Regions from separate parts of the Homo sapiens genome. Here all the other regions are linked to region 1. Evidence: fine-mapped expression QTL. A gene starts in region 1. Each other region holds a variant in brackets. All regions are shown on one strand. Distances are between the middles of the regions.

Evidence for each region. PIP is the estimated chance that this variant, and not a neighbour inherited with it, causes the effect. A credible set is the group of variants that fine-mapping cannot tell apart.
Region 2: its variant is the best candidate, but not a certain one, in a credible set for the expression of GRK5 in whole blood (TOPMed, PIP 0.67).
Region 3: its variant is the best candidate, but not a certain one, in a credible set for the expression of GRK5 in whole blood (INTERVAL, PIP 0.69).
Region 4: its variant is the best candidate, but not a certain one, in a credible set for the expression of GRK5 in nasal epithelium (TOPMed, PIP 0.78).

The regions. Positions count from the first base shown.
Region 1 is chr10:119,204,449-119,209,595 of GRCh38, forward strand. GRK5 (G protein-coupled receptor kinase 5) reads left to right here and starts at 3,123. Exons shown (of 16, transcript NM_005308.3): 1 at 3,123-3,521. The coding sequence starts at 3,470. It overlaps GRK5-IT1 (GRK5 intronic transcript 1), which reads left to right and starts at 3,973. Exons shown (of 2, transcript NR_186528.1): 1 at 3,973-4,202. RefSeq lists enhancers at 1,630-1,709, 1,820-1,869, 1,890-1,999 and silencers at 2,340-3,169, 3,380-3,449, 3,500-3,549.
Region 2 is chr10:119,134,585-119,139,731 of GRCh38, forward strand. It overlaps DENND10 (DENN domain containing 10), which reads left to right. Exons shown (of 9, transcript NM_207009.4): 9 at 1,887-3,400. The coding sequence ends at 2,063. Among named protein-coding and RNA genes, the nearest start is that of SFXN4, 29 kb to the right of the region's middle. The variant T/C (reference allele first, on the strand shown) is at 3,083.
Region 3 is chr10:119,275,527-119,280,673 of GRCh38, forward strand. All of the region lies in intron 1 of GRK5 (G protein-coupled receptor kinase 5), which reads left to right. Among named protein-coding and RNA genes, the nearest start is that of GRK5-AS1, 61 kb to the right of the region's middle. The variant C/T (reference allele first, on the strand shown) is at 2,914.
Region 4 is chr10:119,232,039-119,237,185 of GRCh38, forward strand. The region is part of intron 1 of GRK5 (G protein-coupled receptor kinase 5); the gene reads left to right. Among named protein-coding and RNA genes, the nearest start is that of GRK5-IT1, 26 kb to the left of the region's middle. RefSeq lists enhancers at 279-573, 3,536-3,595. The variant A/G (reference allele first, on the strand shown) is at 2,111.

The DNA.
Region 1 (5,147 bases):
CCTTGGCCTCCCAAAGTGTTGGGATTACAGGCGTGAGCCACCGTGCCCGGCCTATAAAACCTTTCTTAACCTGGTGCTTTATCTATAAAATAGGCCTGTGTTCCCTACCTCATCTGGATATTGTGTTCAAGGAGATAATCCATTTAAAAGACCACAAGAGCCTGGCCCACAGTTGGTGTTGAGTAAATGCTAGCCATTATTGTTCCATTCTTGCATTGGAGTGTCTGAATTTCCTCATAGAGGCACAAAAACCTGATGTACAACCATGTATTTGTGTAGGCAGGATGCAACAGCTTGTAGTGGACAAAAAAATAGTCTAACACTAACTTGCTGAGTGACCATGCCAACTCACTTACTTTGGGTCTGTTTCACATCTGTAAAATGAGAGGGAGAGGCAGGGGTTCCCAGGATGGAAAACTTAAATGTCTATACAGGCCAGATAAATAAAATCACTAGTGACTTGGGCTGGGTATAAGACAATAGGGAGTTACGGTAAACTAGAAAGCTTTTCAACTCTGAGTGTGGTCTACTGACCACGAGGATCGACAGAGCCCTGGAGTTTGTTAGAAAGAGCAACATCTCAGAAACCACCCCAGATCTATCCAAATGCAATCTGCATTTTAACAAGATCCCCCGTGATTTGTATGCTCATGAAACTTTGAGCCAGGCATGGTGGCTTATGCCTGTAATTCCAGCACTTTGGGAGGCAGAGGCGGGTTGGATCACTTGAGTCCAGGAGTTCAAGACCAGCCTGGCCATTATGGCGAAACCCCGTCTCTACTCAAAATACAAAAATTAGCCAGTCATGGTGGCACACACCTGTAATCCCAGCTACTTGGGAGGCTGAAGTACAAGAATCATTTGAACCTGGGAGGCCGAGGTTGCAGTGAGCCGAGATTGGGCCACTGCACTCCAGCCTGGGTGACAGAGTAACTGTCTCAAAACAAAACAAAACAAAAAAACAAACAAAAACAACCTTTGAGAAAATTGTTTTTTTTTTTTTTTTTTTTTTTTGGTTCGGAGTCTCGCTCTGTCGCCCAGGCTGGAGTGCAGTGGCGCGATCTCGGCTCATTGCAACCTCCGTCTCCCGGGTTCACGCCATTCTCCTGCCTCAGCCTCCTGAATAGCTGGGACTACAGGAGCCCAACACCACGCCCGGCTATTTTTTTTTTGTATTTTTAGTAGAGACAGGGTTTCACTGTTAGCCAGGATGGTCTCGATCTCCTGACCTCGTGATCCTCCCGCCTCGGCCTCCCAAAGTGCTGGGATTACAGGCGTAAGCCACCGCGCCCGGCCCAAGAAAATTGTTAAGGTGCATAAGCCATCTAAAGGCATTCAAAAATTTTCTTTCTTTTTTTTTTTATGTTAGCCGAATAAACAAACTTCGGGCTTCATCAGGCCCTATGCTGCCAGCAAGTGACCAGCGTGGTTGGTGGAGGGCTCTAGGAGCTGCCAGCTTTAGGGGTCTCGCTGTCTGAGAGAGATCCTTTCATTAAAGGTTAGGGCTCTAGGCACGTGAATATGTAGCAAAGACCAAGCCTGGATTGCTTAGAACAGTAATTCCTGGAGTGGTAAGTGCCTGAAAAGTTACCCGCTGAGCCCTCCGCCTTCTGACAGGTAAACTGTTGTTGCCCCCATTTTGCAGACAAGATAAATGAGGCCCTGGGAGACTCACTGACCCAAGTCTAGACACCAGGAAGTGGTGGTGGTGGGTATACTCCCCCAGGAAAGCAGGTAATCTTGGGTTGTTACAATCAGTGACCAGACCAGTTTCCAAGGCCTGGAAGGTTTATTGATTTCTTTATATTCTCCAATGCATAATAACTGTTCTCTGTTTCTCTCGGCACCTCCCTGCGACTTCCTGGCAGCCCTGGGGACAGAGGGTTTCCTCCTTCTGGACAGAGAAGGCCCAGAGTCGGCTTCTGAACGGATATCCGGCCCGCAGGATGCAGAGGAGGCAAAGGCCTCATTGTTCTTTGGGGCCTGCCTGCCCCGCCCCCAGCTGTAGGACACTCGTGGCAGATCCCGGGTGACCGAAGACAGCCCATTTCCAGGAGTGGGGCCTTCGGAGCGGAGGGAGCAAGGAAACGGGGCTGAGCACAGACCTGGAGTCTGATGTTCTGAGCATAACACTGGAAGGAGCTAAGAGCCCCAAAATAAATAAGACCGGAATTTAAAAACGTTAATCCCACGCCGGCTTGGCGCTGGCCTGGCTGTTACTCATTAACGCTCCCCACGGCGGAGACTCCGGCGACTCCGTCTGCGTTTTTATTACTTAATCTGGCTGGGTTTGGCTGCAGGGAGGCTCGTGGATTTGCTGGCCGGGTGTGCTGGAAGGCAGTTTATTCACAGAATAAGCAGCTTCCCACGCTGGACCCTGAGCCCCAGGCGCCGTCCGCGTAGACCCCGCGCCGCGCACCGCGGCCGGCGGGGGGCGCTCGGGTCGCACCGAGAGCAGCGCGGGCAGCCAGCGCCGGGTCGCAGCCGACCCGCAGAGCCCTTCGCGCCCTCCGAGGAAACAAAGTGCATCTTTGTCCGCGGCCCGAGGCGCCGCGTGGGAGACGCTGGGCAGGGGCCAGGCCGGGCCGGCCGCCGCCGCGTGCGGGGACCCTGGGCGCGCGTCACTGACCCGGGACTCAGACCCTCGCGGGCCTGGCGCGGACCGGAGGAAGCGGGCTGTGGCGCGCGGCCGAGCTGGCAGCCCTCCCACTCCGAGCACGGCTCGGGACCCGCACTGGCTCCTGCCGGGCCGCGGCGCTTCACGCGCCGTCACCGGGGCCCGTGCACTCCGCTTTCCGGGCTGGCGACGGGGCGGGAAGGGGGCAAGCGGGAGCCTGCGGGGGGGTGCTGGGGACTTCGGCTTGGCTGGGCCGCCTTTGAGTCGCCTGTCGGCCGGGCGGTGCCCGCCTTCGCTTTCGGTGCCGTCCCGGGGCGGGTCCTCGCTCCGACAGCCGCGCGCCAGCCCAGCTCAGCCCCGGCGCCGCGCGGCCGGGAGGACTCCAGCTCCCAGCAGGCCCCGCGCCGCGAGCACCGAGGCAGGAGGCGCGCCTGGGCCGGCGCTTGCGCAGTGCGGCCGCCCGAGCCTGCTAGTACCACACCCCCGGGAGGGACTGAGGGGAGGCAGAAGCATCCGAGGCATTAAAGCATCCGAGGGAGCCGGAGGGGAGGAGAATGGAGTGACAGAGACACGCGGAGGGTGGGGGGTGGGGGGGAGCGTGTTGAGGGAGGGGGGAGGGGGGACACAGAGGGAGGAAGAAGCGGCGGCGGCGGCGGCGGCGGCGGCGGCTCCTCTTTGCAGAGGGGGAAACTCTTGGGCTGAGAGCAGGAATAATGCGGTAGGCAAGGCGGGCTGCTGGCTCCCCCGGCTCCGGCAGCAGCGGCGGCAGCCCGAGCAGCGGCAGCAGCAGCGGCAGCACCCCAGGCGCTGACAGCCCCGCCGGCCGGCTCCGTTGCTGACCGCCGACTGTCAATGGAGCTGGAAAACATCGTGGCCAACACGGTCTTGCTGAAAGCCAGGGAAGGTAAGAGGCAGGGCCGGTACGTGCCCGGCGCGTCCGCCGCGGGCCAGGGTGCGGGTGTCGGGTGGCGTGCGGGCTGGGGCTGCGCCCGTGCAGGATGCCCGCTGCCGGCGAGTGGGTCGCGAGCAGGACACTTCGGAGAGCGGCTCTGCAGACCCTTCAGGGTTCCTGCCTTGGGGCTCAGAGAATCTGGACTTGGGCTGAGAAGGTTGCAGGGATTTGGATGCTAACATATCTCCTAGTTTCCAGCGCTCGCCCTGCAGAGCGTGCCATCTCGGCAGCTGTTGAAAGGTCAGTTGGAAAAGCATTCATTCGGGGAGCGACGAGCAAACATGCACATAAAATAGCGTTTCAAGTCGGCCCGGGATGGTTCTGTGTGAACTGGTGTGTGTGTTCGAGGGGCGGGGGTGGAATGAGCAGAAGCCAAGTCTTTGCCTGCGCAGGCTGAGTTGATATAGACTATTGCTGGAAACCATCCGCTGGGATGTTTCTTAGGGAAATCCCGTCGTGTGGAAGGAAGCCTTTTAAAGGCAAAGTCAGATGTTGAGGAATTAGCCTTTTCATAGAATTATCAAAGGATGGCTGTACAGACCACCTAGAAAATAATTCAGTATTTCAGGTTTTTCTTTTCTGGGAGTGTGATAACTGAAATTGTTAGATTTTGGCTCAGTTAAGAAAAGAAAGGTAAGTGTGCTGGTGCTTTAGATACGTTTTCTATGCAAATCATTAGATTTCCTGCATTTAGCTGGCAGGAAATATTGTCTAAATGGAGTGTGTAAGATCCTGAGTCAAACCCTAAGAACGCATATTTTGACTCTTCCTTTTGATGAAAAACAGAAAAAAGGGGGGGGAGGCAGAAACTTGGGTGCTTCCTGAAATGATTGTGTTGTGTCCATGTAAACATATGTATTTAGGAATACCTGGAATTTATGTCGCATATTTTCCTTTTTTTTTTCTGGTCAAGATTTGAGCTCTAGTGTGCGACCTTTTTCATAAAAGGGGAAGAGGTTTTTCCCTTTCACGGGAGAACGCTTTATTTGATACAAGGTAGAAGGCAGACTGAGTAAGGGCTTGAGTTTAGAAGGATACTCGGTGAGCAGCCCATGAAAATGTCTTACCTGCTTAATATTTTCATTCACCTACTTTGATGAATGAAGGGAAGAATTTCTGGCCAGCAATAAAACGATTCGTGTTTATTCAGCCCGTTCCATCACCTTGTGGCTCCCTACACACTGTGGGGGTAGGTGATGCATAGCCTTCCGTGGGCAGCGTTTCAGCAACTCAACCCGGCATTCGTGTCTTACTTTCGTCGTCACTTGTCACTCTAAAGCAGCCAGTGGGCAAGAAGGTTTATTTCAGAAGCCCCGAAGGGAGGCAGTGCTTTGAAAACCCCAGCAGAGTTTAAAATATTCAGGTTAGTCTCCCTCCCATTGCTTAGCTTTGGTGGGAATAAATTTTTAGGAGAGGCTTGTTACTTGGTGACTTCAGGTTCTAAGGCCTGAGCTGTGTGTGTGTGTGTGGTTTTTTTTTTTTTTTTTTTTTTTTTTTCCTAACCTGACATTTTTAGTGGACAGGATCTAGGTGGGTGCTGGTAGGCTCTCCTCTGGGTTGGGGAATGGTCCTGAAAGG
Region 2 (5,147 bases), 70 kb before region 1:
TCAAATGATCCACCTGCCTCGGCCTCCCAAAGTGCTGAGATTACAGGCGTGAGCCACCATGCCTGGCCAGAAGACATGATTTTAATGAGTGCTTTAGTGAGTCCTCAGCCACCCAAAAGGAATAAAGCCTGCGTGGCAGGTGCCGGGTTACTTATCCCAGGCAGAAGAGGACTTTTGGGAAGAGATTCCTTCAAAAAAACAATAGCAGCATTTCTCAAAAAGTTAAACATCAAGTTACCATATGATTTAGCAATGCTGTTTCTGGGTATATACCCAAAATAATTGAAAGCAGGGACTCGGCCAGGCCCGGTGGCTCATGCATGTAATCCCAGCACTTTGGGAGGCCGAGGCGGGCGGATCACCTGAGGTCAGGAGTTCAAGACCAGCCTGGCCAACATGGTGAAACCCATCTCTACTAAAAATACAAAAATTAGCCGGGTGTGGTGGTGGGCGCCTGTTAATCCCAGCGACTTGGGAAGCCGAGGCAGGAGAATCGCTTCAACCCGGGAGGCGGGGGTTGCAGCGAGCCGAGATTGTGCCATTGCACTCCAGCCTGGGCAACAAGAGCAAAACTGTCTCAAAAAAAAAAAAAAAAAAAAAAAAGAAAAAGAAAAGAAACGATACTGTAAAAATATAGCATTATCATCTTATGGGACTACCATTGTAAATGTGGTCCCTGGTTGACCAAAACGTCATTATGTGGTGCATGACTGTACTCGTATGGAAATATCCATAGCAGTGTTACTCACAGTAGCCAAAACGTGGCAGAAGCAACCCAGTGTCCTTCAGCAGATGAATGGGCAAGCAAAATGTAGTCTTTATATACAGTAGAATATTACTCAGCTTAAAAAGGAATGGAATGTTTTGAATGTGGCTTTTGTTGGGGGGGAGAAAAGGAATAGAATTCTGATACATGCTATAGCATGGATGAACCTTGAAACCATGCTAATGAAATAAGCCAGACACTAAAGGGTAAATGTTGTATGATTCCACTTATATGAGCTATCTAGAGCAGACAAATTCACAGAGTTAGACGGCAGAATAGAGGTTCCCAGGGGCTAAGCGAGGGGAAATGGGGTTATTGTGTAATGGGTAGAGTTTCTGTTTGTGATGGTGAAACGTGCTGGAAATAGTGGTGATGGTTGTGCAACGCTGCAAATGTACTTAATGCCACTGAATTATACACTCAGAAAATGACTAAAATTGTAAAAAAAAAAAAAAAAAAAAAAAAACCAAAACCACACACTATGATTTTTCTAAGTTAATTTTGTTTCATTTTTCCTAATTTTTTCTTTAAAAAGAATTATCAGGCCAGATGCAGTGGCTCAGATCTATAATCCCAGCAGTTTGGGAAGCCAAGGTGGGCAGATTGCTTGAGCCCAGGAGTTTGAGACCAGCCTGGGCAACATGGTGAAACCCCATCTCTACAAAAAGTATTTAAAAATTAGCTGGGTGTGGTGGCGCATGCCTGTAGTCCCAGCTACTCAGGAGGCTGAGGTGGGTAGATCACTTGAGCCTGGGAGGTCGAGGCTGCAGTGAGCCATGATTGAACCACTGCACTGCAACCTGGGTAACAGAGCGAGACCCTGTCTCGAAAACAACAACAAAAAAAGGAGTTATCTTTTTTGTTGTTCGTTTTTGAGACAGGGTTGCCCAGGCTGGAGTGCAGTGGTGCAATCATGGCTCACTGCATTCTCTAACTCCTGACTCAAGACATTCTCCTGCCACGGTCTCCCAAAGTGCTGGGATTACAGGCATGAGCCACCACGCCAAGCTCATTTTTCATAGTTTATAAACAGTCTGGAAAAAATAGGAAGAATTCTAGAGACTAAATATTCAAATTTCGGATACTAACATGTTGCATATATTTTCCTGTTCTATTAAAGGATATTGCTCTAAAAACAAGAGAAATCTTTACCAACCTAGCACCGTTTTCAGAAGTTTCGGCTGATGGAGAAAAGAGAGTCCTTAATTTGGAGGCGCTAAAGCAAAAACGATTTCCACCAGCAACAGAAAACTTCCTTTATCATCTAGCAGCAGCCGAACAAATGCTGAAAATCTGACTGTGTGACAGAACGTATCACTGATGACTGATAGAAAGCCCTCTTTCACTCTGATTACCCACTCACTACATGAAGTCCTGAAAATAACAGAGAAACTGTTATATCTTTTTAATGATTTATTTGCAAGTATTGAGATTTGACCTGAAAAACAATGAAACACATGAACACACTTCCGATTTTCTCCTCGCTGATTAGCTTCCTGCCTGCTGTCAGTGCTGGACGAAGTGCTATAACTACTTTATGTAACATTACAGAACAGCTAGAGGTCCTGGGGTAAGAGAAAAAAAGCACATCACAACAAATGTGAAAGCCTTCATTATTACACGTTCCAGTTTGTCTCGCTGTGTAGGCATAAGCTAATGGTTTATTTTCAGAAAGCTGCCTGAAACGTTGCTTTGTATTCTTCTAGGAAGAACTTTAATTCCTCCTGAGGAACTCTACTTTCTGAGCCAAACTGCTAATTTTCTGCGGAACTGTCTAGAAGATCATTCAAGAGACCCTGCAGTTGCACTTTCTCGTAAAAGTTAAAAAAAAAAAAAAAAAAAAAAGGTTTTTCCCGGCCTTTGAACATTTTGCCTATGAGAGTTTTGCATATATTTTATACTTGAGTAGACAACTTTAATAATCCATATTTATACTATCGCAGAAGTAAGCATTTGGCAAACGTTCAGCCATTAGCACTCATTTAACCCTGTTAGCAATATTCTTTTGAAAAAAGTGCCAGTCCTTATGTGATAAACTAAGAAGCCCATTGAATATAAAAGTGTGTAGGACTGAAACAGTGACCTTATATTATTGCTAAGGGAATATGAGATTAACTTCCTACAGGGGCCAAAACCAGAGAAAGGCTTCCAGCAACTTCGATGAAAGTAGTTTGGCCACATGTCAAGCCAATTGTTTGTACTATTTATGTACCTTTTTCATAACTGGAATTGCCAAATAAGCATGGAGATCTAAATGATGTACTTGTTAGTGTATTCATTCATATTGACTGTAAAGGATTATTTTTCACTCAGTAC[T/C]GATGTCCTTGGAAATCTTACCTGGAAACATGTTTGCAAAAAACATTATTGGGTCTTTCATCTTTTTCTTGGTATTACATATTTGTTCAATAAAAATTAAACACCCTCCCTTTTTTTTGAGTGAGGGCAGGGAGTACCTGAAATAAGACAATGTTTACTAAGGCAAATAATTGAAAATTAAATCTGCACTTTATGGAAATGAGGAATATTAACATCTTTTTTCTCATTTTTTTGTATTACTATATTAGCTAATGATCAAAGTTGTTAAAATTATAAATTTATGATGCAGAAATAAAATTGATATATTTTGATATTCAACTACTTTTAGGTGGGTGACGAATTGTCCCCTCTTTCTCTAATACTGCTCATTCCAAAGAAAATGGGGAAAAAATACCTTTTTTCAACTGTGAGGGCGCTAGGGAATTATTAAAAGACCTGTCTGAAAGTTCAAGACGGCCAAGGGCGCGGTGGCTCATGCCTGTAATGCCAGCACTTTGGGAGGCCGAGGTGGGCGGATCACCTGAGATCAGGAGTTTGAGACTAGCCTGGCCAACGTGGTAAAACCCCATCTCTACTAAAAGTACAAAAATTAGCTGGGTGTGGTGGCACATGCCCGTAATCCCAGCTACTTGCTATTTGGGAGGCTGAGGCAGGAGAATTGCTCGAACCAGGGAGGCGGAGGTTGCAGTGAGCCGAGACTGCACCATTGCACTCCAGCCTGGACAAAAGAGCGAGACTTGGTTTCAAAAAAAAAAAAAAAAAAAAGTTCAAGCCGTCCCCCACACACCCTTTCCTCCCGCCCTAGCCCTCCTCCACTCGCCTTCCTGGAGCTGCCTCTGTAACTTCAGTCTCCTGTCCTTGGAAGATGCCTTCACATTTCTGTCATCTGTTAGCGGTTAAACCTCCACCTGCAGCTGTTGCCCATCTTGTTCTCTAACTTTAATTTTGGTTAGTGTCAGCCTATGGTCAAACTGAGCCATTTACTGATTTTGTCCTTTTAGGCTGTTATGAAACTTTCCTCACCAAATTTGGAAATGAACCATCATACTGGCCTTGGGGAAACAAAACCACAGATAAATTCTTTGGTAATGTGGGGTAGGGTGTGTTGGAAGCATTAGTCCAGTACTCAAATGTTGAGGTACCTACTCTGTGCCATGCCTGTGTTGTATTTTGAACTACCCTGATGGGCAGCAGCTCCCGCTCTCGCGGTGCTGCGCACAGTCCGCTTGGGGAATAGGGTCAGCAAACAGGCTGCTGTAGTGTGGCTAGTGCTAGGCGTGATGTGTGAAACAGAGTGGTATTGGAGCACATAGATGGGGACCCAGTTCAGTGCTGTCAATCCTGGAAGGCCTCCCAGAGGGAGTGATCAATGTCAAAGTCAGGCCTGAAGCATTAAGTAGACATCTACTCAGACCAGAGGAAACAGCTGTGTGAAGGCCCTGAGAAGAGACCACAGCCCATGTGAGGACCTGGAGGGTCTACAGGGAGGGGAGGGAGTGGCAGGATACGAGTATGGGAAAGGCTTGCTGTGGTGAGGAAGGTGGGCTTGATCTTGACGCACTGGGAAGCCATTTAAGGCTTTTCAGGCCCGGTGCGGTGCTCAGGCCTGTAATCCCAGCACTTAAAGAGGCCAAGGTGGGTGGATCGCGGGGACAGGAGATGACAGCCTGGCCAACATGGTGAAACCCCATCTCTACTTAAAAAAAGCAAAACAAAAATTAGCTGGACGTGGTGGCTGGTACATGCCTGTAGTCCCAGCTACTCAGGAGGCTGAGGCACAAGAATCACTTGAACCCAGGAGGTGGAGGTTGCAGTGAGCCAAGATCGCGCCACTGCACTCTACACTCCAGCCTGGGTGACAGAGTGAGACTCCGTCTCAAAAGAAAAAAAAACAGTTGTTCAGCAGGTGTGGTTTAGAAGAGCAGGCTGGAACGTGGACCGGAGGGAGTAGGCAGGAGATGGGCCAGGCAGTGCCAGCAGGGGATGCTGTTGGACTGCGCTGGGTGGTAGCAGTGGGCATATGTGGGTTCCAGACTCCATGTACTGGGCCCTGTCTACTGCATAG
Region 3 (5,147 bases), 71 kb after region 1:
GATGATTTTTGGAACTGGGGTCCAGTCTGAATTCTCTAAGGCATGCTTGTGCGTGTGCACGCTCTCTCTCTCTCTCTCTCTCTCTCGCACACACACACACACACACACACACACACACACAGAGTAATGGTTTTAAAGTCATGACATACTGTGCTTTTGGCTGCTGCTGTTTCTGACTGATGACCCCAATGAGACTCCAAAAAATTAGATGGGTGCGTTTGGAAGGCATTCAGAAATTACTCATTGGAAGAAAAATGCAGCGTTTGGAGGAAGGGGAGGGCTGAGCATGTGTAAAAATGAGTGTTATGCGCTTAGTGTTCCGAATTCAACATCAGTGAGGAAAGGGAGGGCCGCAGGAGTTTGGGGACCGTCTCGCTAAGCAATACTGCAAACACAGACAGTGACCCGATTTTCCATAGCTGTGCTAGCTCCTCAGGAGGTTTTGAGAATCCCCCTCATTTGGGTTTGAAGGAGGTCTCAGTGTCCTTCCTCCTCTGTTTGCCAGATTAAAGTTTCATACCTCAGAGCTGGGATACGCTGGGTTTTGATTGTAAAGGCATGCAGCTCAGACTCTGTTGTAAATGGTGAGTTTTTCTTTTTTTTATTACACTTTAAGTTTTAGGGTACATGTGCACAATGTGCAGGTTAGTTACATATGTATACATGTGCCATGCTGGTGTGCTGCACCCATTAACTCGTCATTTAGCATTAGATATATCTCCTAATGCTATCCCTCCCCCCTCCTCCCACCCCACAACAGTCCCCTTCCTGTGTCTATGTGTTCTCATTGTTCAATTCCCACCTATGAATGAGAACACGTGGTGTTTGGTTTTTTGTCCTTGCTATAGTTTACTGAGAATGATGATTTCCAATTTCATCCATGTCCCTACAAAGGACATGAACTCATCATTTTTTATGGCTGCATAGTGTTCCATGGTGTATATGTGCCACATTTTCTTAATCCAGTCTATCATTGTTGGACATTTGGGTTGGTTCCAAGTCTTTGCTATTGTGAATAGTGCCGCAATAAACATACGTGTGCATGTGTCTTTATAGCAGCATGATTTATAGTCTTTTGGGTATATACCCAGTAATGGGATGGCTGGGTCAAATGGTATTTCTAGTTCTAGATCCCTTAGGAATTGCCACACTGACGTTTTAAAAGTGAAATCAGAGAGTGTTTTTGGTTTTCTTGAAGCTGCCTTTGACATTTTAGCAACACAGCTGGGAGGGTAAGGTAGAAAACTCCAAGAAGTTGGAATTCAACTGTCAAAGTCAAAGCGGGGATGGACTTTTGGGAGTCCTGCCACAGCGGGACCTGAACTCAAGTCTTAACTTCTCCTCTAGGGCTCTTGTGTGAAAGAGGAATAGCTTCCTGCAGTTCACAAGGGTCGTACCATGATCAATTATTATTACGTTACACATCACTTCTGTACCAATTTATATTGGCACATGAAGTTAATATATCCCTATATCCATGCATTGCCTTTGTGATTTGGGAAAATCCGATGCCTTGGCCAAACCTCTGAATCATGTGACCACGTTTTAGCCTAATTTGGTGAACAAATCTTTAACCTCCATGTCTTCAAGTGCAGCATCAGTGGGTCATGGATCCAGAAGGTTGGCTGATTGGGATTCTCTTGCTGGGTGCTGCCGCACCTTGTGTGTCGGGTGCCGACACCTTGATCATTTCGGCCAGACCCCCAAGAGAGCCCACAGACCACCATGCTGGGTGGAGGCACCCAACACCTGGCTGACTGCGTGAACTTCTTGCTTCCCAGTGGCTCTCCAAACTAGTTGTGGAGGACGCGAAGGGGTTTCCTGATGTCAAAATAAAAATAACGATGTCTGTAGTTTCCCAGGAGGAATAATTGTTGATGTTGAGGCATGATCTCTGCATGCATTCTGTACCTGCTCCAGGGTGCCAGTGGAGGCTACACCCCTCTCCCCCTCTTCTGCTCTCTGCGACACCCCTGCCACAACAGACCTTGACTCTCCAGGCTGGGACCCAGGAATCCGTACTCTTTCAAAACCACTTTATTGAGTGTAATTGACAGACAGTAAGCCACACATATTTAAAGAATATGATTTGAGAAGTTAGGATATATCCATACCCGTGTGAATCTACATACCACAAACAAGTTATCCATCACTGCTGAAAGTTTACTCATGCCCCTTTATAATCCTGCCCTGTCATCCCTTCCTGTCCCCTGAACCCTAAGCAGCCACTGTTCTTGCTTTCTGTCGCTCTGGATTCGCTTGTATTTTCTGGATTTGCTTGTATTTTCTGGATTTGTCTATAGATGGAATCATATAGCAAGTACCCTTTCTCATGTGCCTTTACTTACTCAGCATGAAGATTTTGAGATTCATCTACACTGTTGGCGTATCAGTAGTTCATTCCTTTTTCTTATTGAGTAGTGACCCACTGTATCGATAGACCACAGTTTGTTTACCCACTCAACTGTTTGCGCAGGTGGGTTGTTTCTAGTCTCTCTATGGACAGAGATTTCCTTTTCTCTTGAGTAAATACTTAGGAACATCTGGATCATATGGTAGGTATAGGTTTAACTTTTCCAGAAATTGACAACCTGTTTTCCAAAGTGGTTATTCTTTGGGACAAGGAATCGTTGTTTTTAGATAAGCTTCCCCAATTCTCCTGTGGCCTCTCCCTTCCCGAGACGGTCTAATGGCCCTGAGCGATGGCTCCTATGTGCCCGTCTCCACCTGTTCTCTCAGGGCTAGCTTGGCCTTGGCACCTCACTGCAGGCCGCCCCTCTGCTTGGGGTGCTGGACAAGCAGAAGGGGAACACTCAAGTTCTTTCTCTCCATAACTGCCTTCGGGAAGCCATGGCAGATGCGTTGACTCTCTGTAGGGCTGGCAAGCTGTGTGGCGAGTCCCTTATCCAATGT[C/T]GCTGTGTCCCACAGGGAGGTCTTAAAGAGGCAGCCGACTTTTGTGGCCTCCTTGTGAAAGCTTCGATGCCTCAGGGATCATTTCTGAGCTGACTGCTAGTTGGACTTGGGCCCACTGAAGAGACAGCCTGGGATCGGATGTCCAGAAGAGACAGATCTGAGCACGTCTCTTTCCTCTCCCTCCTCTTTTCTTCTTAGCCCTTCCACCTATCACTCATTCATTGCCCCTTCCTAGGTTCTGTATTCATTTGCTGGGGGCTTTAACAATGAGACGTTATTTTCTCCCAGTCTGGAGGCTGGAAGTTCAAGGCCTAGGTGCCAGCAGGATTGGGGTCCCTGGAGCCCTCCCTCCTTGGCTAGGAGATGGCCGCCCCCTTGCTCTGAGCCCACATGGTCCTTCCTGTATGCACCTGCACCCCGGTGTCTTTCTGTGTCCTGACCTCTTCTTTTTTCTTCAAGACGGAGTCTCGCTCTGTTGCCCAGGCTGGAGTGCAGTGGTGCAGTCTTGGCTCACTGCAACCTCTCACTCCTGGGTTCAAGCAATTCTCCCACCTCTGTCTCCCGAGTAGCTGGGATTACAGGCGTGTGCCACCATGCCAAGCTAATTTTTTGTATTTTTTTTAGTAGAGACGGGGTTTCACCATGTTAGCCAGGATGGTCTCGATCTCCTGACCTCGTGATCCACCCGCCTTGGCCTCCCAAAGTGCTGGGATTACAGGCGTGAGCCACTGCGCCTGGCCCCTGACCTCTTTTATAAAGATATCAGTCACACTGGGCTGGGGCCCAGCCTAATGAATGGCCTCATTTTTGCATGATCTCCTCTTTAAAGGCCTTATCCTCAAATTTCTCCAAATACAGTCATGTTCTGAGGTGCTGGGGGTTAGAACTTCAACACAGGAATTTGGGGGCATACAATTCTGCTTATCACAGGTGCTGAGCCCTGAGTGCAGTGCTTATGATAGAAAGATGAGCTGGATAGTTCTTCCCCTTGTGCAGCTCAGCATCCTGGGGGAGAGAAAGTGGGAAGATCCAGTTTTCTGATGAAAGAAGATGGAAGGAGGAGGGCTCGGTGCTACTAGGGGGGTGGGAGTGGATGGTTAAGACCAACTTGACTCCAGTGACAGCAGCAAGGGCTCCTCATTCCTGTTGATGGTGTGTCCTTCAAAACGTGCCGTGGTTCTCAAGGAGTGAGTGGCGGTGGCCTGCAGCCCTCTGGCACTTTGTGGCCGAGGCCAGCTCCAACGCTGCAGGGCAAGAAGAGCCACGCTGCAGGGCAAGAAGAGCCACGCAGCAGCACTGATGTGCGTGCCAGTAACTGCCTGGTGTTCTAGTGAGTGCTCTCCCTCGAGGAGCCTACTCCATTCTCTAGGGGATCATGTGAAAAGTAGAGCAGCTTTGGGAAAGTGTGAAGTCTCTGTTGTGTCTCTGGAGAAGTTATCGCCTGGTTTGCACATGCTGGAGGGTGGGGTGGTGGTGGAGGAGGAGGGCGCATGATGCCTACAACCTGGCTACACTGGCTCTTTTCATCCTTGAATTCCTGCCTCAGGAACCCTACAAACCCAGTGCCCAGAGTATTGCACTGGGGCCAGAATGGGAAGAGCCCTGAATACAAGAGAACTGTGGTATTGGGGCTATACCTATAAGCATCAGGAAGTCCCCTGCTCTGTGCCCAGGGAGTTGGAGGCCTTAGTACCCTTATCTCTGGAGGCTTCTCCCTGGCCGTGCAGAACAGCTGCAGGAAAGGGGGAAAGCAACTTAACAAAAATTGGTCCAGGGACAAATTATGCTTAGTAATGGATTATCCCAAACATGCTTTGTCTGAGTGTCCTGAGGCCATGGTGACAAAAAGTTAGTGCCGTAACACACACGGAATCAATTCTCTGAGCCTGTGCACTGTCACACTTGTTGCCTCAAGCTCACAAATGGAGTTTTTCTTGTTGGTTTTAATACCTGCAGGAACGTGAATGTCGGCTCTCCAGCCAGCAAGGCCAGCGCCCACCCATCCATCCCTCTGCCATCCTCCATAGGTGGTTCTGATGGCTCTGGTCAGCTGTCATTCGTCCTCCCATCTCTCAGCCTTTGTAGGATAGTTGATACCTGTTTTATTCTTTTATTGTTATTTTAGGGGTCTCAGCATGGAAATATATTGGTGTATAAGTACCTGTTCCAGTCCTTGTTTTCACTTCTCTTGGGACTATACCTAGAATTGGAATTGCTAGATGCTATGGTAATTC
Region 4 (5,147 bases), 28 kb after region 1:
TTGCAGCACTATTCACAATAGCCAAGATAGTGGAATCAACTTAGATATCCAACAACAGATGAATGGATAAAGAAAATGTGGCATATATACACAACGGGAATCTATTCGGCCCTGAAGAATGAAGTCTTGCCATTCGCAGCAACATGGATGGAACTGGAGGGCATTATGCTAAGTGAAATAAACCAGGCACAGAAAGTTAAATGCTATGTGTTCTCACTTATACGTGGAAGCTAAAAAAAAGTTGATTCATAGAAGTAAAAAGTAGAACAGATAATACTAGAGGCTGGGAAGGGTAGGGGGAAGGGGATAGAGAAAGGTTTGTTTAACAACACAAAATTATAGCTAGATAGGAGGAAGAAACTCCTAGTGTTCTATATCTGTAGAATGACTGTAGTTAACACTAATATGTAGTTTCAAATAGCTAGAAGGAGGATATTGAATGTTCCTAACTGATATGGTTTGGCTGTGTTCCCACCCACATCTCATCTTGAATTCCCACGTGTTGTGGGAGGGGCCCGTGGGAGGTAATTGAATCATGGGGGGCAGGTCTTTTCCATGCTGTTCTCGTGATAGTAAGTCTCACAAGATCTGATGGTTATTATAAAGGGGAGTTTCCCTGCACAAGCTCTCTTTGCCTGCTGCCATCCATGTAAGACGTGACTTGCTCCTACTTGTCTCCCACCATGATTATGAGGCTTCCCCAGCCATGTGAAACTGAAAGTCCAATGAAACCTCTTTCTTTTGTAAATTGCCCAGTCCTGGGTATGTCTTTATCAGCAGTGTGAAAAGAGACTAATACACTAGCACAAATAAATGATAAACATTTGAGATGACAGATATGCTAATTACCCTGATCTGATCACTGTACATCATATGAATTGCAACATCACCATGTACCCCATAAATACGTAGTTATGTGTCAGCTAAAAGATAAAAAACTATAATATTTGCACCCAGGTGATGCTGCAGGGCAGTCAGGAGATGTGGCTGGCTCTGGGGAAAGGTGTCAGCTTGGTCTGGGCCTCCCTCAGTGGCCAAATGGCCAGTGTGAAGTCTTGGAGGGTGAAGGGCTCCTCCATGCCAGAGGCAAGCACCTGGCAGTAGCTTTGAAGAAATGTGGGAGCAGACGGTGTCTGTTGTTTTTCTGGCCCACATCTACCCCCTCTTCTTCTGGCAACAGCACCTCCATTTTTCTTGGGGGACCACTCCTCCCTGTATTTAATCCACAAGGTTGGGTGGAGATGATGTCTCATTGGTTCCATCAGTGAGCACATGACTCAGCCCTGGCTGTGCAGAGCCTTGATTCTCTGCTTGGCCTCAGGGATGGGGATGGGATTCTTGGTTCCAAAAGGGCTGCTCTTCTGCTGCTGGGGTTGCCAAGCTGGTGGAGGGAAACTTGGAGCTCTTGGTGGCCGTTGCCACAGCCTATCTGAGAATAAAGGCGGCATAGCACGATGTTGAATCAAAGGCTGATGGGGTGGGGGAGAGAGAGAGAGTCCTCATTGCATTGTTTCATTTTGGTGTCCAGCCATTCTGGGGGCCAGATGTACCCCCCTGGTTTCCTGTTTGGGTGAACGTGTGACTTGCCACTTACAGTCAAAGGATCCTGACTCATTCAGGGTTAAAAGTCACATCCTTAGGGGATACCTGCCTTAAAGAACCCAAGACAGCAGGCCAGAGACATGGGGCCTGGGTCAGGAGGAGCCAGCCCCCTGAGTCAAGGAAGGCTGGATGTGCACCTTTGTCCCAGGCTTTGCTTGAGCAGAGGGCCAGGTGTATTTGATATTTGCCACAAAGAATACAATCCTTAACCTGGCTGCCCTTGTGAGACTCCAACTGTAGCAAAGAAAGATTAGGAAACAAACATCCCAGTCACCATGGAAATGTGAACCCAAGGTGTTAGGAACAATAGCTGTGTGAGTCCGGAAGTGGATTCTGTCCACACACATGTTGGTTTGATCCCCCATCTATTTCCTTGTGGGGGCCTGGGCATATCTGTGAACGTATGATATAGCCAGCTGCTCTAGGGCTGGGTGCCACCTCCCATTAGCCTTGGTTTCATCATCACCAAAATAGCTGTAAACCTAATACACTGCTTATGCATGTCAGA[A/G]CCTCCTTACAGCCTCCCTCGGAGGTAAATATTATTTTTATCTTAATTCCACAGATGAGAAAACAGAAGCTCAGGGAGGTTCCTAAACTTTCCCAAGGTCACAGTTGTTGATGGAAGAGCCAGGGTTTGAACCCAGCCCGTTGAGTCTGTGCTTTTTTAACCACCACGTTCCTCACGTTGGTGTTGACAAAAAATATTACTAAAAGTAGTTCATTCTTACTCTACATGTCTTATTTCAATTCTGCCACAAACCTATGAGGCAAGTACAACTGGTTAATTCCATCTTATAAACGAGGAAGCTGAGGCACAGAAGACTTAGGAATCTTGCCCAAGTTCCACCGTCAGTAGGAGGCAAAAGTACATTTGGGGGTTACTTTTTTCAGGTGGATTTGAAATGATAATGTGTCTTAAATTTAATTTGGAAGCCAAGAATGGGTGATAACTGTAATTTTTTCTTTTCTTTTCTCCTTCCCCTCCCCTCCTTTTCTTTTCTATTCTTTTCTTTTCTCCCTCCCCTTTTTTCTTTTCTTTTCTTTCTTCTTTTCTTTTCTTATTATTTTTTGAGACAGAGTCTTGCTCTGTCACCCAGGCTGGAGTGCAGTGGCACGATCTCGGCTCACTGCAACCTCTGCCTCCTGGGTTCAAGTGATTGTCCTGCCTCAGCCTCCCGAATACCTGGGATTATAGGTGCACGCCTTGTATTTTTAGTAGAGACAGCATTTCACCATGTTAGCCAGGCTGGTCTCGAACTCCTGACCTCAGGTGATCAGCCTGCCTCGGCCTCCCAAAGTGCTGAGATTACAGACATGAGCTACCACGCCCGGCCTAATTAATTAATTTTTTTGAGATGGAGTCTCACTCTGTTGCCCAGGCTGGAGTGCAGTGACACCATCTCAGCTCACTGCAACCTCTGCCTTCCCAGGCTTGGGTGATCCTCCCACCTCAGCCTTCTGAGTAGCTGGGACTAGAGGTGCACACCACCAGGACTGGCTAATTTTTTTTTATTTTTTTTATTTTTGTAGAGACGGTTTCACCATGTTGCCCAGGCTGGGATAAGTGTAATTTCTAAATCTGGCTTTCATCAGTGGTGATGTTCTTCATGTGTAGATTTATACTAGGGAAACAAATCAGGAGGGGGAACAAGGTGGACAGAGAATAATAGCAACTTGATTTGCCTATTATCCCTGGAAAACCATATCCTGGAACTCACTAGCATGTAAGTAATTGGAAAATGTTAAAGCAAAAGAGCCAGGTTTAGAAACAAAATCACACCATCAAGTCTATGTAAATGAGTTCCTCGGTGAAGAGAAAAGCAAATGCACTGCTGTTTGTGGGCTGGCTGGCTGTGTCCCAAGTGCTGCAGAGTGGGAGTCTGGGACCAGTTGTTTTTTCATTGAGGGCCCCTTACAAGGCACACTCGGGTTGTTCAGACTCCATGAAGCTCATGAATTGGCTCAATAACAAAAAGCATGAATCATTTGAACGTGAAGGTACAGGGACATCTGTTTGAGTAATTTCTGACAGTTTTTTTTTCCTTTTTGAAAATGTGTTATATTTAGGATTTACTTGAGAAATAAGGTGGACTTGGGGACTGACAGCCCATCAGTTTCATGGGAACAGGGCCTGTGTCTTTTTATTGCTCTTTTTGTGTATGTCTGTAGACAATAGGTGCTCAATAAGTACTTTGTGTAAATGGTGACTTTAGGAGCACCTGGATTCTGCCCCAGGAGATTCCTGAGGGGCTGGCAGGTAACCAAAGGCTAATGGAGGTTTACAGCCAAGTTCCAGATGGTTCAGGGGCCCGAACCCCTGGGTGGAGCCTCTCTTGGGCCATATACCCATTCCCATGCCTGGCTGTCCCCCATCCCTTAGACCGTGGCTGCTGCTGCTGGACTGTGTTCTCTTGTGCAGATATTAACGGTGCCAAATAGTGCCAGGGCCCAGGTTGCAGTGGGCTCCTTATTGTCCTGTAATCTCAGCACTTTGGGAGGCCGAGGCAGGCTGATCACCTGAGGTCAGGAGTTCTTATTGTCTAGCCCAGAGGTTGCAAACTGACCTACACACTATTTTTTTTTTCTTTTTTTTGAGACGGAGTCTCGCTGTCTCTCCCAGGCTGGAGTGCAGTGGCGCGATCTCGGCTCACTGCAAGCTCCGCCTCCCGGGTTCACGCCATTCTCCTGCCTCAGCCTCCCGAGTAGCTGGGACTACAGGCGCCCGCACCTCACCTGGCTAATTTTTTGTGTTTTTAGTAGAGATGGGGTTTCACTGTGTTAGCCAGGATGGTCTCGATCTCCCGATCTCGTGATCCGCCCGCCTTGGCCTCCCAAAGTGCTGGGATTACAGGCGTGAGCCACTGCGCCTGGCCCCTACACACTATTTTAAAAATCGGGAAATTTCACGTAACCTTTCTGATTTAAGACTTCTTTTAGATAATTCAAAGTTTTGGCGACATTAGGTAAGAATTTTTGTGTAGCAGCATTTGTCTGCAGTTAATTTTTTTCTTTTTTTTGAGACGGAGTCTTGCTCTGTTGCTCAGGCTGGAGTACAGTGGCATGATCTTGGCTTACTGCAACCTCTGCCTCCCAGGTTCAAGCAATTCTCCTGCCTCAGCCTCACAAGTAGCTGGGCACACGCCACTGCACCTGACTAATTTTTGTATTTTTAGTAGAGCTGGGGTTTTGCCATGTTATCCAGGCTGGTCTCGAACTCCTGACCTCAGGTGATCCACCCACTTTGGCCTCCCAAAGTGCAGTTAAATATTGATTGTCTCTTTTGTGGCAAGATTCCAGTCTCTTCCTTTTACCACAGGCCACAATAGTTCCTCTTGTCTCATATCAAGTCCCCTTTACTCATTTATATCACCTGACCAGCCTCTGGTTTCAGGGCCTGTCTTCTGTAGTGTATTTGCCTTACCTTTTTTTTTTTTTTTTTTGAGACGGAGTCTCACTCTGTCACTCAGGTTGGAATGCAGCCGCGCGATCTTGGCTTACTGCAATCTCCGACTCCCAGGTTCAAGTGATTCTCGTGTCTCAGCCAC